2 separate regions of the Homo sapiens genome follow, and region 2 is linked to region 1. The links come from fine-mapping of genetic effects on gene expression. Tissue or cell type: whole blood. Region 1 holds a variant in brackets; the other region holds the start of a gene. All regions are shown on one strand. Distances are from middle to middle.

What was found. PIP is the estimated chance that this variant, and not a neighbour inherited with it, causes the effect.
Region 2: CDKL5 starts here. The variant in region 1 is fine-mapped to the expression of CDKL5 in whole blood (TOPMed, PIP above 0.99).

Annotation. Positions count from the first base shown.
Region 1 is chrX:18,673,546-18,681,649 of GRCh38, forward strand. It overlaps TRV-TAC1-2 (tRNA-Val (anticodon TAC) 1-2), which reads right to left and starts at 1,436; the gene lies at 1,364-1,436. It also overlaps a transcript of PPEF1 not described here. RefSeq lists a silencer at 1,361-1,547. The variant T/C (reference allele first, on the strand shown) is at 4,072.
Region 2 is chrX:18,420,764-18,428,849 of GRCh38, forward strand. It overlaps CDKL5 (cyclin dependent kinase like 5), which reads left to right and starts at 4,845. Exons shown (of 18, transcript NM_001323289.2): 1 at 4,845-4,932. RefSeq lists an enhancer at 4,466-4,760 and a silencer at 5,096-5,165.

The sequences.
Region 1 (8,104 bases):
GAGGCAGGAGAATCGCTTGAACCCAGGAGGCCGAGGTTTCAGTGAGCCGAGATTGTACCACTGCACTCCAGCCTGGGTGACAGAGCCAGACTCTGTCTCAAAAAAAAAAAAAAATGGTTAAGGTGGTTTTAAAAAAGGCCGGGCACGGTGGCTCAAGCCTGTAATCCTAGCACTTTGGGAGGCCGAGGCGGGCGGATCACGAGGTCAGGAGATCGAGACCATCCTGGCTAACACGGTGAAACCCCGTCTCAACTAAAAATACAAAAAATTAGCCGGGCGAGGTGGCAGGCGCCTGTAGTCCCAGCTACTCGGGAGGCTGAGGCAGGAGAATGGTGTGAACCCGGGAGGCAGAGGTTGCAGTGAGCTGAGATCACGACACTGCACTCCAGCCTGGGCGACAGAGTGAGACTCCGCCTCCAAAAAAAAAAAAAAGAATAAAGTTGATGAAGTGATTGTAATAACAGGGAAAGAGTTACACTCAAGTTAGAAAAAGACGCAAATTTCTACACTGTTAAGGATGCATAACTAGGTTGAAAATGCAGAGAAAAATACTGAGTGCCCCTTCCCATTTTATATTTTTTGCTACCACCATCTCACCATGGCCCACACCCTCATTCCTCTTGTCAAAGATAAAAAAGCCAATATTTAAACAAATAATAAACTCCCCAAAGGAAACTGTAATGAAATAGTAAAGAGGAACAGAAAGAAACTAGAGAAACGTTTGCTCATTCAACCAGTATTTATTGAATGTCTACAAGCCTGACATTTATTTTATACTGTGTATGAACTCTATTCCACAAATTCTACTGCTGCATTAAAAGGGACTGTGGGGTTTTTTTTTTTTCGTGCTCTGCACATCAGAGTTTAATGAAAAATAGAACTTTTAATCAGAGTCATAATCATGACCGACCTTTAATAATTCACCTGCAGTCAAAGCGCTGCTGTATTGCCTGCCACATTTTAGTTGGAGGTTGGGTGGCCGGCCCTTGCTGGCTTGCAGGCAAAGGGCAGCCAGGTGCATTCCCCGAGCGCCCGATTTTCCGAGGCGTACTGGGAGGAGAGGTGGGGTAGGGCCCGGCCGGATCGGGGGCGCCGGATCGGGTCTAGGACTTCGCCCGGCCCCTGCCCTCCACTACTTCTCATGTCGGACTATGGCGGCAGTGACCTTGTGGGATAGGAGAGGGTATCTGTCATTTCACTTCTGCGAGAAAAACATGCCAAAAAATTAAAAAGAAAAAAAGGACAAAGAAAAACACTTCGTTGTCGCTTTTTGGTTTTTTTTGTTTGTTTAACCCAAACCCTTTTTTTTTTTTAACCCAAACAACGAAACCCTATAAAAGCAAAAACAGCCGCCTTACGGCTATGGTTCCACTGGGGCTCGAACCCAGGACCTTCTGCGTGTAAAGCAGACGTGATAACCACTACACTATGGAACCTCTACGAGGAAGAATATTGTTGGGACTTTATTCATAGACTCACAGCAGTTCCGGTCCCTCCGCCGGAGCCCCGCCTCTCCACCGTGACCCCGCCCCCGAGGCGAGGAGTTTGCGGCGGCTTCGAGTCTCGGGCTCCGGCGTTTGGGCGGCTTGTCTTCCCTGCCCGCCACAGTCGCGGCCCCTGGGACCAGGGCGAGGCCGGAACCCCGGCCGAGAGCACCTCCCTGCTATCATCTGTCCCCAAACTTTCCCTCAATCGAGGCGCCGGCGGGGCGGCCCGGCGGCCGGAAGTGCACCCTGCTCGGGCTTTGCGCCCCCGGCAGCTTCCTCCGCCCGCGAGGGCCCCGCGCCTTCCCATTTTCCCAACCGGCAAACTGAGCCTCGGCCACCCGGCCCACTTGCCGGTCGGAAGTCAGGACGTCGCCGCTTGCGGCGGCGTGGAAGGCTTCGCCTCCGGAGCAAGGAGGACGGGCCGCTGGTTAGCGGGCCCTTTGCCCGAGGGTGTGGACCTCTACCCGCTCCCCTGCCCCTTCCCGCAGCCTTCTTCCCCTCCCGAGGACAGGCCTAGGGGGTGCAAATGCCAGGGCTTCCGTTAGGTCTCCTTAGTCTAGGGCTGCAGGGGTTGGGGGACGAAGACGTGTAGACGGGGCCACCCGTCTATGGCTTCCAGGGTGGCAGCGGCCCTGGCCACGTGATTGAGGGGCCCAGTGCAAAATGAAGATGCCAGGCCCCTTGTTAAGTTTTTGAGAATTTCACACGGTAACAGCAGAGTATTCAACCTGGTGCGGGGTCCCTGACTTGCTTGCAGGACTGTAGTCTGGGTAACGGGCTGGGACCCTCCATCACAAAGGGTGATTCTTGTTTTTCATCGTCAGTGTCATTTGCCTTCTTCAGGGCTTCCAGGTGGATCTTCGTCACCACCCTAGGATTGCTCACCATTCTCAAGCTTGAAAACCCACCTGCAATCATTTGGGCGGGGGGGGGGGGGCATCTTTAAGCGCCCAGGTGAACTTGGTCTGCAGGCAGCAGCTGTCCTTTTCTCTGGATCTTCTGCTGAGGTCGGTAGGTTGATAAGTGATACTGATTTTGTGGCAGGAACTCCCTTCAGCCAACTCCTGTCTTCCTGGGAAGGCCTCTGGAAGAAACCAGGTGGGTGCAGGGAACACTAAGGTGGGGATCTGGATGTTCGTCTTGATTTGGCCATTCATGAGCTGGGTGCTCGAGCTAGTCAGTTCACCTCTGGTCTCAGTCTCCTCCTTTGTAAATACAAGGGTTGGACTAAACACGTCCCCTTTCACCTCTGGGTCTCAATGTTATGCCCATCTTCCACGTAGGAAAACGGAGGCAGTTATCTGCCATGTAATCCCCCCCACACACACACCCCCGCCCCCCGCCCAGAAGTAGAGGCAGGCCAGCTAGTGGCGTGGGTTTTTCTAGTACCCGTTTCCCGATGTCCTCAGTTAGCTCCCTGTCATATTCATCATGGGGCCCCCTTCTAGTCTGCTTTTTTGGTGAGACGTTTTCAGAGGCCTCTCGAGCGCTTGATGCCTAGATTGTGGGCCACGAGATGACCAGAGTGGCCAGCCACCGGCCGGAGGATACGTTCCTGAGAGCTCCACGTTTCCCACTAGTCAGTGAGCCTCAGGACTCCTGGGAAGCCTGATAATAAGTGTATCCCACCTGTTTCCAAACCCCTAGCGGTCGAAAACAAGACTGCCAGGAACTGGCCCTAAAGTTACACCCACTGGTTGTGTTTTGGATGGTGTCTCTAGGAAATGCTTTGCTCTCCAGCCCCCCACATCCCGATTTTTCTGTCTGCCCCTGGGTATAAAGGTATGTTTGCCAAGTTCCCACACTTAACCTCTGTGCAGAAAAGAAGCTGGTGTCCCTCTGTTGCATGCTTAACCTCTGTGCAGAAAAGAAGCTGGTGTCCCTCTGTTGCATGCGACACAGGTATCTGCCTTTGGTGAAAAACTCTTGTTCCTTTTCTCCATTCCAGGAGGGAAACTGTGTTCTGTTCTCCCCGCCGCCCCTCGCAAGGTGTCATCACAATCTTTTTTTTTTTTTTTTTTTTTAAGACGGAGTCTCGCTCTGTTGCCCAGGCCGGAGTGCAGTGGCACGATCTCAGCTCACTGCAACCTCTGCCTCCCGTTCGAGCAATTCTCCTGCCTCAGCCACCCAAGTAGCTGGGATTACAGGCGCCCCCCCACCATACCTGGCCTACTTTTTGTATTTTTAGTAGAAATGGGGTTTCACCATGTTGGCCAGGTTGATCTCAAACTCCTGGCCTCAAGTGATCCGCCCACCTCGGCCTCCTGAAGTGTTGGGATTGCAGGCGTAAGCCACCGCGCCCGGCCCCACCCAGCTCAAATTCTGTGGTCATTTTTATCACTTGCTTGTTTGCCCTTTCATTTCTTCCTTGTGCTTGTTGGTAAAACCACAATCTCTTACATCTGACTGTCTCCCTACCCTGCCCCTGAACATGGCCCAAGAAGAACACATCCAAGCTGACTGGTTTCACACTAAATTCATGACTGCTTAGCTCAAGTGAACCCTTTCTGCAGTCCAGAATACGTGTCCACTTCTAAGGACGGTTTCATGTCTTATCTCCGTAAACCTCCTGTACCCCCAACCC[T/C]AATCTCGGTTACAGCTGATGATCTAGCTTCCTATTGCGGTGAAAAAATGGAAGCAATCAGAAGAGAACTTCTGGAAGTCCCCTGCCAGCCACCGTCTGCTCTCGTGCTCTTCCTCTGGATCAGGATGGGTTGGGACTGGCTAACTCTGTCGTAGGAGGCTGTCCCGTGTATTGTAGGATGTTTTGCAGCATCCCTGGCCTCTATTCACTGGATGCGTGTAGCACACATCCTCCCCCACCACCCAGTTGTGATGACCCAAAATGTCCCCTGGGGGACAAAATCTTGGGAGTTCTTTGGCAATATCTGGAGACGCTTTTGTTGGTTATGACTGGGAGAGGGGTACTATAGGCACCCAGGAGGGAGAGGCCGGGGCGCTGCCAAACATCCTGTGGTGCCAGCTACTCTGGGGGAGTGAGGCGGGCAGAATCCCTTGAGCTCAGGAGGTCGAGGCTGTCGTGAGCCATGATTGCACCGCTGCACTCCAGCCTGGGTGACAGAGTGAGAACCTGGCAAAAAAAAAAAAAAAAAAAAAGCCGGGTGCGATGGCTCACGCTTATAATCCCAGCACTTCGGGAAGCTGAGGCGGGCGGATTGCTTGAGCTCAGGAGTTCAAGACCAGGCTGGCCAACATGGCAAAACCCCATCTCTATAAAAAAATACAAAAAACTTAGCCAGGCATGGTGGCGCACACCTGTAGTCCCAGTTACTCTGGAGGACTGAGGCAGGGAGGATCCCTTGAGCCTGGGGAGGTCGAGGCTGCAACAAGCTGAGATCGCATCACTGCACTCCAGCCTGGGCGACAGAGTGAGACCCCGTCTCAAAAACGAAAACAAAAGCAAAAAAACAGGAAAAAAGCTCTTAATTCCACTTCCACCTGTGCCACTTCCATGTCTCTGCTCTCCTTTATAATACAGTTCTTAGATTGGTCTGGTGCTCTCTCCAGTTCTGTCCCCCCACTGGGACTTGTTCCAGCACTCCACCAAAATTCCTCTGATCCAGTGATTTCCACATTGCTACACAGAATAGCTCTTCCTTTTCATCAGATTTGATCTACTAGCAGCATTGAAAACAACCCATCACTCTGTTTTGAGGTACCTTCCCCTCGGCTTTTAGGATGCGGACCTCTCGCGATGTTTATTTCCTCTCACTGCATACTCCTTTTTGGTCACTTTTGCTGGAGCCTCATCTCTTTGACCTTTAAACACAGCCGTACCTCAGAGGTCTCGGTGCTTGGACTTCTCTATTTGTTCTCACCACCCCAGCGACCTCATTCAATCTAATGGCTTTCAATACCCTTGAGAACCTAGAAGATTCCAGTGTGTATCTCTAGTCTAGACTTTTCTCTCAAACTCCAGACCTACATGTTCAACATCTCCATTTAGATGTCTGTTAGGTTAGGCATCTCACATGTCTGTGTCCACGCTTCTGATCTCTGCCCCTAAATCCGCTTCTCTCTTGATCTGTTTTTCTTTTTTGGAGACAGTTTTGCTCTGTCACCCAGGCTGGAGTGCAGCAGCGCCATCTTAGCTCACTGCAACCTCCACCTCCTGGGTTCAAACAATTCTCGTGCCTCAGCCTCCCGAGTACTTGGGATCACAGGCGTGCGCCACCACATCCGGCTGATTTTTTTCTGTATTTTTAGTAGAGATGGGCTTTTGCTGTTTTGGCCAGGCTGTTCTTAAACTCCTGGCCTCAAGTGATTCACCCACCTCGGTCTCTCAAAGTGTTGGGATTACAGGCGTGAGCCACCGTGCCTGGCCTCTGTTTTCTTTATCGCAGATAATGGCAGCTTCATCTTTCCAGCTATTTAGGCCTAAAACTAAGAATCATACTTGATTCTTCTTTTTCTTACACCCCCAGTGTAATCTTACTAGCAAAGCTTATTGGCACCACCTGCAAGATCTATCTATGCTAGCTTTCTGTCATCTCCCCAGCTACACTCTAATCAAAGCCACTATCACATTTTGCCTGGATCATAGCCAGTAGCCTCAGATCTTGGCCTTTCAGCTTCTGCCCTTTCCCCCCTACAGACTATTCTCCACACAGTAGCCAGAGTGGTCCTTTCAAGATTCAGATTAGCTCTCATCATTCTGTGCAAAACCCTTCAATGGCTCCCTACCTCAACTAGAAAAGCTGAAGCCTTACAGTGGCCTACAAGGCTTGTGCCTCTCTGGTTATAAATCCTCTTACTGGCCAAGCACAGTTGATCATGCTTGTAATCCCAGCACTTTGGAGGCCAAGGTGGGCAGACACTTGAGGCCAGGAGTTTGAGACCAGTCTGGCCAGCATGATGAAATCCCGTCTCTACTAAATATACAAAAATTAGCCAGGTATGGTGGCATGCACGTGTAATCCCAGCTACTTGGGAGGCTAAGATGGGAGGATCGCTTGAGCCTGGGAGGCGGAGGTTGCAGTGAGCCGTGACTGTGCCATTACACCCCAGCCTGGGTCACAGAGCAAGACCCTGTCCTCAAAAAAAAAAAAAAAAAAAATCCTATAACTTTGCCTTTGCTTTGACTGCACTCCAGCCACACCGGCCTGCTTGCTGCCCTTCAGTTACACTAGGCCTCTCCTGCCTCGGGGCCTTTGCTGCTGCTGCTGCTGCTGCTGCTGCTCTCAGCCTCGAATAGTTTTTCCTTAGATCACGCTGTTGCTTGTTCTCTCACCTTGCTCGGGTCATACCCAGATATCTTCTCAGTGAGGCCTTTCCTGACTGTCTACTGAAAATTGCTATTATTCTTTTCCATTCATGCTAGAGACTCACTGCCCCCCTTTCCTGCTTATTTTTCTCTGCAGCACTAAATTTCTTCTCTTTTTTTTTTTTTTTTTGATACGGCATCTCGCTCTGTCGCCCAGGCTGGAGTGCAATGGCGTGATCTCGGTTCACTGCAACCTCCGCCTCCTGGGTTCAAATGATTCTCCTGCCTCAGCATCCCGAGTAGCTGGGACTATAGGCACCTGCCACCACGCCCAGCTAATTTATATATATAAATATTTTTAAATTTTATTATTATTATACTTTAAGTTTCAGGGTACATGTGCACAACGTGCAGGTTTGTTACATATGTATACGTGTGCCATGTTGGTGTGATGCACCCATTAACTCGTCGTTTAGCATTGGGTATATCTCCTAATGCTATCCCTCCCCCTCCCCCCACCCCACAAGAGTTCCCGGTGTGTGATGTTCCCCTTCCTGTGTCCATGTGTTCTCATTGTTCAATTCCCACTTATGAGTGAAAACATGCAGTGTTTGGTTTTTTGTCCTTGCGATAGTTTGCTGAGAATGATGGTTTCCAGTTTCATCCATGTCCCTACAAAGGACATGAACTCATCATTTTTTATGGCTGCATAGTATTCTATGGTGTATATGTGCCACATTTTCTTAATCCAGTCTATCGTTGTTGGACATTTGGGTTGGTTCCAAGTCTTTGCTATTGTGAATAGTGCCACAATAAACATACGTGTGCATGTGTCTTTATAGCAGCATGATTTGTAATCCTTTGGGTATATACCCAGTAATGGGATGGCTGGGTCAAATGGTAATAGAGATGGGATTTCACCATGTTGGCCAGGATGGTCTTGATCTCTTGACCTCGTGATCCGCCCACCTTGGCCTCCCAAAGTGCTGGGATTACAGGCGTGAGTCACTGCGCCTGGCCTGCAGCACTAAATTTCTACATATTTACTAATTTATTTTGTTGATTGTCCCCACCATCCTCGACTGGAATGAAAGATCCATGAGGGCATGGATTTGGCTTCATTCTCTGTTGTATTACGCAGAGTCTAAATAGTTTCCAGCATATAGTAAGTGCTCAGTGAATATGTCTTGAAAACAATGTGTCAGTGTTGAGGGTGACTCAAGCCAGGGCAATGAGTTCCAGTAAGAGCTAATCCTGGATTTTTGCTTGACTTCTTGAGCAGAGACGTTTCCTAATTCACCCTGGACTTGAACGTGAGATGATGTAGAGGCTGGCACTTCTGCTGCCATCTTACTATTGCGTTATATTAGGGCTCTTGGTTGCATACAACAGA
Region 2 (8,086 bases), 250 kb before region 1:
ATAAAGTCCTTACTATGGGTCAGATACTCTTCTAAGTATTTCACAAATAGTCACTCACCTAAACCTATGAAGTAAGCACTATTATCATCTTCATCATCTCCAATTTTTTTTGAGACGGAGTCTCACTCTTTTGCCCAGGCTGGAGTGCAGTGGTGCAATCTCAGGCTCACTGCAATCTCTGTCTCCCGGGTTCAAGCAATTCTCCTGCCTCAGCCTCCCAAGTAGTTGGGATTACAGACACTCACCACCACGCCCAGCTAATTTTTGTATTTTTAGTAGAGACGGGGTTTCCCTGTGTTGGCCAGGCTGGTCTCGAACTCCACACCTCAAGTGATCCACCCACCTTGGCCTCTCAAAGTGCTGGGATTACAGGCATGAGTCACCGCGCCCGGCTTCATCTCCATTTTTACAGAGGAGGAAACTGAGGCATAGAGAAGTTGAGCAATTTGCCCAAGGACATAACTAGAGCTAGCATTTGAGCCCAGGCCATCTGACGCCCGAGTCTTAAAAGATATGATTGCAATGTAAGGTTTGCTCAAGGTACAGAAGAATATTGGTTAAAGTGTTAAGGCTGACATTTCTGTTCTTTCCCCACTGTTCCTGGTTAAACTCAGTGCCTGGAGGACAAAGATAGAGGCTTTGTTTCAAATGAGGAATTGGATTCAAATTTCCAAAATGAAAATTTTCCAAATGATATAAACTTTAAATGAAAACATGTAAGATCTGACGGTTTGATTTAAGCTCTGAGCAGGGCCGAGGAATAACTAATGCTCACCTCTTCCTGCAAACACTATAAATTTATGCACTGAGCCAGGCACCGCGGCTCATGCCTGTAATCCCAGCACTTTGGGAGGCTGAGGCAGGCGGGTCACTTGAGGTCAAAACCAGCCTGGCCAACATGGTGAAACCCCATCTCTACTAAAAATACAGAAATTAGCAGAGTGTGGTGGCGTGCGCCTGTAGTCCCAGCTACTAGGGAGGCTGAGGCAAAAGAATCACTTGAACCCAGAAGGCAGAGGTTGTAGTAAGCTGAGATCATGCCACTGCACTCCAGCCTGGGTGACCGAGCAAGACCCTGTCTCAAAAAAAAAAAAAAATTATGTGTTGATTGGATTCTTAAGCTTTTCTACCAGATCCTGATTGCATTATGAGGTCTAGGCCCAGATGGATACTTCATAAATGTTTTTTTGACAATGAATAGAATGCTTGTTTAGTCTTCTAGACTTGTCCCACATATATCAAGGATAAAAATGTCTTACTTTTTTTTTGTTTTGAGATGGAGTTTCGTTCTTGTTGCCCAGGCTGGAGTGCAATGGCGCAATCTCGGCTCACTGCAACCTCCGCCTCCCGGGTTCAAGCGATTCTCCTGTCTCAGCCTCCCGAGTAGCTGGGATTACAGGCACATGCCACCATGCCCGGCTAATTTTTGTATTTTTAGTAGAGACGGGGTTTCATCATATTGGTCAGGCTGGTCTCAAACTCCTGATGTCAGATGATCCGCCTGCCTTGGCCTCCCAAAATGCTGGGATTACAGGCGTGAGCCACCGTGCTCAGCCAAAAATGTCTTACATCTTGATTACCACTTGTTTATTGATTATTGAGACCCGTAATGAGTAGCACTCATAGGTTCTGACATCTGTAGTGGGATGCGTCTCTGGCATCTAATAGAAAGTCTGACTCAAACTGTCTGAAATGCAAGGAAAGGGCAGAGTTTGTTTAATGAAACAACTCAGTGACGTCATCAAGAACCCAGTTAAAAATTTTTTTTTCTATTTTTTGATTCTGCCTTATTTAGTGTGTAGGCTTTGACCTAGGGCTGGTTTTCCTCTTAGTCACGAAATGACTGTCAGTGGCAACAAGCGTACTTGCTTCCTTGTTCATCCAGCAGGGTAGACAGGGAAAACCTCTTTCAAACCATCAAATGTTAAATTCTTTCCTTCAGTGTAATTAGGCCACACATTGATTGACTGAGACTCTGGGTAGTGTGGAGCGGGTGGATGCCTGAACAGAGTTGGGGTTCTATTAGAAGGGCAAAAAAGCAAATCGATGCTGGGGAGGTTCTCAAGCTGTTTCTTCATCTGGAAAATGGTGAGAATTTCGCAGAGAATTGAGAGGATTAGAGATAATGTGTCAGATTTAGCAAATAAAAATCGAAGATGCTCAGTTAAAATTGAATTTGAGATAAACAGCAAATAATATTTTAGTCTAAGTATGCTCACCTCTTTCTACAAACACTACAAATTTATACATTAATTTGGTTCTTAAGCTTTTCTCCCAGATCCTGATTGCATTACAAGGTCTAGACCTAGAAGGGCATTTCGTAATTTTTTTGGCAATGGTTAGAACCTTATTTAGTTTTCTAGCCTTGTTCCACATGTATCCAGGATAAAAATACACATTTATACTAAAAATTATTCGTTGTTTATCTGAAATTCAAATTTAACGGGGCATCTTGTATTTTATCTGGCAACCCTAAATCTATGTGAAGTTCTTGGCACAGAGCAGGTATCCATTCACTGGCTAGTATTAGTGTTCTTTCTACATAAGTGCTCAGTTAAATGGCAGCATGGTACTTTTTTTTTTGGAGACAGAGTCTTACTCTAGCCCAGGCTGGAGTGCAGTGGTACCATCTCGGTTCACTGCAACCTTGACCTCCTGGGTTCAAGCAATTCTCCTGCCTCAGCCTCCTGAGTAGGTGGGATTACAGGTGCACGCCACCACTCCCGGCTAATTTTTTTCTATTTTTAGTAGAGATGGGGTTTCACCATGTTGGCCAGGCTGGTCTCGAACTTCTGACCTCAGGTGATCCACCTGCCTTGGCCTCCCAAAGTGCTGGGATTACAGGCGTGAGCCACTGCTCCCGGCGCATGGTACTTTTTAAACTTTTACTAACTTTCTAGAAAGGTTAGTTTTTGACCAAAAGACGAATTAACTAAACTGCAAGTGACTGCAAGAAATCCTTTACCACTACTTAAAACCAGATCAAAGCAAATGTCCCTAAGCAGAAGGTCATATTTGTGTATATGGGATGGCACATTATAAGGCATCTAATATTACTACTTAATACTAAATTGGACCTATATTAACAGATGTTCAGTTATTGTTTTTTCTCCATCTTCTCAATCTATACGGATAATTAATTTGTTACTTCCGGTTCACCAGGTCTAAATAAAATTTTAAAAAATTATTCATTTGAGTCAAAGGTAATGCTGCTGAAATTCCTAGTACAAAGGCTCTGATATACAGGGATGAAAATGGAGTGATTGCCCCAGGAGTTCTGGATCCACGTGGGTGAAGCTAGAGGTCACAGCACTGTTACTTTGCATCTGGAGGAGGCAGGAGACTCTGCGAAGCCCTCTGTTGTTGCCTCTGACTCCATTTTCCCTCTTTGCTAATTCATTGCTCCTACCTGTAAAATTTTCTAATATGCTTCCACTTTCATTTCCTCATCAAATATTCACCGTTATGAAAAAGAAAATCCTATTGGCTTGGTATCAAGTGGCCAAACTGAGCATGCTGCTACATATTGTTACCAGATTCACTACAGGAATAGATTAAGTGGATTTTATCCCAAATATCTATTTCCTATTACAGTACTGCATCTTTCTAATTTGGTGGCAGCTATGACCTCATACACTGCCTATTTTCCGTGCTTTTCCTAACCAGAAGAGACCCTATTTTTCTCCTTTGCTTGTTAAAGCGAAAATAATTATGCAGCTTTCCATAGATTTGTCCCCAATGTCTTTTTAAAAAAATTTTTTTTCTTTATTTTCTAAAAGTAGCATTGGAAATGTTATCTCCTTCAATTTCATCACCTCTTCATCCTCCTTGGAAACCCGATCCATGGTGGGTATTAAGATCTTTACATTTGTACTGGTTGGGCGATGACTTCATTGCTTTCAAGCCAGCTGGGGGATCTTGTGTGGCAGAGCATCGGACCGAAGCGGAGGTGTGGGTCGTTGCTGCTGCTGCTGCTGCTACTGCTGCAACAGCTCTTTGCACGCGCCCAGCTGCTGTGTAAGGAATCCTCAGGCTGCTAGGTCTTTGCGCCTAACTCACCCAAGGGACCGCAAGCTGCTGGATGAGTGTACGTGTGAGTGTGTGTTGTGTGTGTGCATATGTGCGTGTGTGTGTGCACACGCAGCGGCAACAGTTGGGCAGCAGCAGCAATGGACTTCGATATCATTTTTACCAACAACAGAGATAAACCATCCTCCATCCTGTATTTCTCAGCTCCCGCCCCGAGTATGTTCTCCCCCTCTTCTCCGACTTCCCCCACCCCAGCCCCCGGCACGGGTCCCTCCGGAGGGAGGGCAGGGTAGCTGCGCTGCAGGCAGGATTCCCTCTTTTTTCCGCAGTGACAGGCGGATTCCGGGGCCTCCTCGCCACCTCCTACCCCCGCAGCCACCCCTTTCTCAGTCACGATCTCCCCACCCCACCACCGTCGACCCTCTCCCTGCTTCCCCGCTCTACCCCCCGGCGTCGACTCCAGGCTCGGGCCCCGCCCCTCTCAGCCTCTCCAGCCCAGGTTGCTAGGGCTTGGCGGGGCAACCAAACCTGGCGTGCCAGGAGGCGCGGCGCGCGCGTGAGCGCGCAGGCGAGCTTGTATAAGGAACCAGCGTTCTTCGGCTTCGGAGACTCGAGCACGAGCGGCGCGAGCCCGAACCCCAGGACAAGCGCTTCCTCCTCATTGGCTCCTACCAGAAGGGGGCGGGGTAAAGGCGGGATCGGGCAAAACCTGAGGTGCTTTCCCATTGGTCCGAACGGGCCGGCTGGGGCGGGGCAGTTAGCAAAATAGGCTGCGCGTTCGCTTCTGCTAGAGGGCGGGGCCGGAGGTTTCGATTAGTTGTCTCTGCCGCTGGGGAAGGTAAAGCGGCGACGGCGTCCTCAGGAGCTGTGGGGTCCCCTGCTAGAAGTGGGGGACTCGGCGGGGTGAGTAGTCGCGCCGCCACCCGCCCGCCAAGCCTTCTTACCCTTACATCGGCCCCGCGTCCACCCAGCTTCTCCTGAGAGTGGAGACCCACCCAGTCCCCCCGGGCGGACAAGAGAAGGGGCGGGGGCGCCGGTTCCCCCGGAACGGGGCGACGCGGTGAGGACGTCCCAGCCCGGAGTAGCCCCTCCTCAGCGCTCCCCTGCGCCTCTGGAAGGGCTTCCCCCGAGGGGCTGGGGCTGTCTTTTGGGGTGTGGGGAGGCGAAAGGGTGTGAAAGAGGGGCGGCGGGTCGAGCCCGCCCCGCGGGGTTCCCCTCAGCGGCGGGTCTGCGGCGTCCCCGCCCCGCCGCTCCCGCGGCACGAGCTCCCCGGGGCTTGCGGCGAGGTAAGCCCCTTCCCGCCGGCGCCGAGGAGGGGCCTGCGCGCCCCAGCCCCCTGCCCGAGTTCGGAGGGAGCCCGAGACTCGCCAGGGGCCGTCAGTCGCGGCCCGGGCCCTTCTGACCTTGGCTGCCCGCGAGGGTGGGCTAGCGACCGGGCGCCGGCCCCGCGGCTCCGCAACCTCCCCCGGACAAGTTTCAGGCGATGCTGTGAAGTTCACGACTGGCATAGTGCGGGGAAGAAGAATGGCCCCTTCTCAGACCTTCATACCTTTTGGACCCTCATAGAAATCGGATTCTGGGATTTGGAACCGTCTCCCAGAACGAACAGGTCCTCCTTGCATTGACACGTTTTGTGCCCACGTTGGGGAAAAAAATAACCTGAACATATTTCAGTGTAAAGGCAGATCTTCCTTGAGGGTTTTGTTTTTCGCTTCATTTGAGTGTTAAAGAACAGATGCCTGAATAAGAAAAGCCTGACCTTAGTATCTCTACAGTGAGATTAGACGGGTGCTGTGATATTTAAGTAGTTGCAGATCAGTATTCTGTTAGCACAATCTATTTTAATTGGCTGGAATTTAAGCTGATTTTAGAAAGTATTGTTGACACCGAATGATTTCTTTCTGTGCATCTGAATTAGGTTTGTTTGAACGTAATGGTTATATAGTTAATGTAAAAGATTACACAAATTAATTTGTCTGAGAGCGTTTGTCAGAAACAGGAGACAGAGATGTGTATAGAACAGGATTATCGTTTTAGGTAACATCTGCTGGAACATTTCCAGCTTGTTTCTTTCTTGCTGTAGGGTTACAAAAAAGACATCTTCACCGAGGCTATTCGGAATTACATGTGAGTGACACTTAGATGTAAATTTGTTTTTATTTCCTTCAAGTGTTTTAAAATGTTTTGTTCACAAAATGTGAAGAGGCTATATTTACTTGTTCCTGTATGTTAGTGTTGAAGGTGATAGTATGATCTTATGATTAACAATCCAATTAGGGTCCATTAATAATAGATTTTTAAAAAAGGCGTGCTGCTTTTCGAGAATATGATAGGTTGAGTACCTAGCAAGACTTCTAATTTCTTTTTATTAAAAGTACTATTTTAGGATTGAGAATTTTTGGCGTTGACACTGAAACCAGGAATAAGGAAGCCTGCAGCAGTCTTAGCAGTTTGACACCACCAGTAGGTGTTTCTGTTGACAAATGCAGAGAAGAGAACATTTGGGAAGGAAATCTTTTTTTCGGGGCGGGGGTTGGGGGGGAGGTGAGGGTGGTTGAGGGGGGAAGGAGCCAGAAGAGAGAAGCTAATGCTGCCAGCACTGTATGCTGAGCATTTCACAAGTACAAGGAAACCTAATTAGGGAAAAATTCCGTTTGGCTCTATTAAATAATAGAACTACAAAAGAGGCATACTAAATAAAGTTAACCATTCCAAGAGTGTTAGATATTATCTGCCATTTCAGAGTAGTTGGGGGTTCCTCAATTGGAGAGGGTATCAAATCTCTTTGAATTGTCTTGCCTTTTTAACATAGTCAATGCAGCGATTAATTTGCTAGATGTATATATATCAAACAGTTGAGTATTCCAGTTTTGTTGTTTAGCATATTTCCTAAGCCTAAATTTTTTAAAATCAAAATCCGATATATTTTTTTTAAATTTGAAATAGAATTCTTTGTCCAGAGAGTAATTCCTTTTTTCCTGGCTCAGTCTTAAAATTTATTCATGATTTAGGGGTTTGTGATTGGTATTTTTTTACCCCTTTTTCTCAGGTTTTTGATTTTTACTTATGCAAGTTCCCTAAGTCTGCCTTTGTTTATATTGTAATTTTCTTGGAATTATTTAAATCAGAGTGTGGCATCTATTGTGTCCCCTGGGGTTTTAAAAGGAAAGGCTCCCATTGAAAGAAATTGCAGGGCCGTCTCGCATAGATGGGTAATAGAAGGTTGACTGATTGCGAATCAGATGTATTCGGTTGCAAATATGCTGCTTGGGGTTAAGGCAGTTTCAGTTAACGGGAACCAGATTTTACGTGGTGTTTCTACTTTGAAGGTACAGTATTGTTACATTACAAACTGAAAGACAGAGGTGGAGAAATTCCTTTAAGTATCACCCCTAGCCTTGTTTCACCACTGTGTCCAGGAATCTATGAGAGACTGTTAACAATAGCTGCATTGTTGGAAATGACAGTGGCTTCTCTTGCAGAAAGTTAACCTTTCATTATGATTTTCATTTCAGTTTACTTTGTAAAAGAAAATTTAGCTTTATCTGAGAAATTGGCTGTAAGAAATTTGCAAAGAGAGCAAGGAAAATAGGTTTTCTTCAACGTGTCTGTTAAAATTCACATTCTCTCCCCTTCCGTTTTGATAACTGGTGGTGATCTTTATTTCCTCTAGATATTAGGTATGCTAACACAGTACCTGATTTTTGGCAGTTACTGTGGGAATATGACTTTTTTATGTAATAAATTGATGTCAAATAATAATATGAGGCTTTTAGGAATAATTAATTCACATGCATAGATCTAAAACATGAGGGAAATCTTTTAGATGACCCTTCACTTTGGTACAAGAATAGCACAATTTGAAGTATTAAGTTGCTTTCTAAGTAGAAAAAGCTATTTACTCAGAATTGGGTAATTTTAGATTTTAAAGTTTTTTTTTTTTTTTTGCAACATCAAATAATTTGGCAACATCAAATTTCTTGTTAAAGGAGGCGACAGAATCTCACAGATTCTTTATCATCTGATCATGGCATCAGTTGGACTACATTTCAACTTA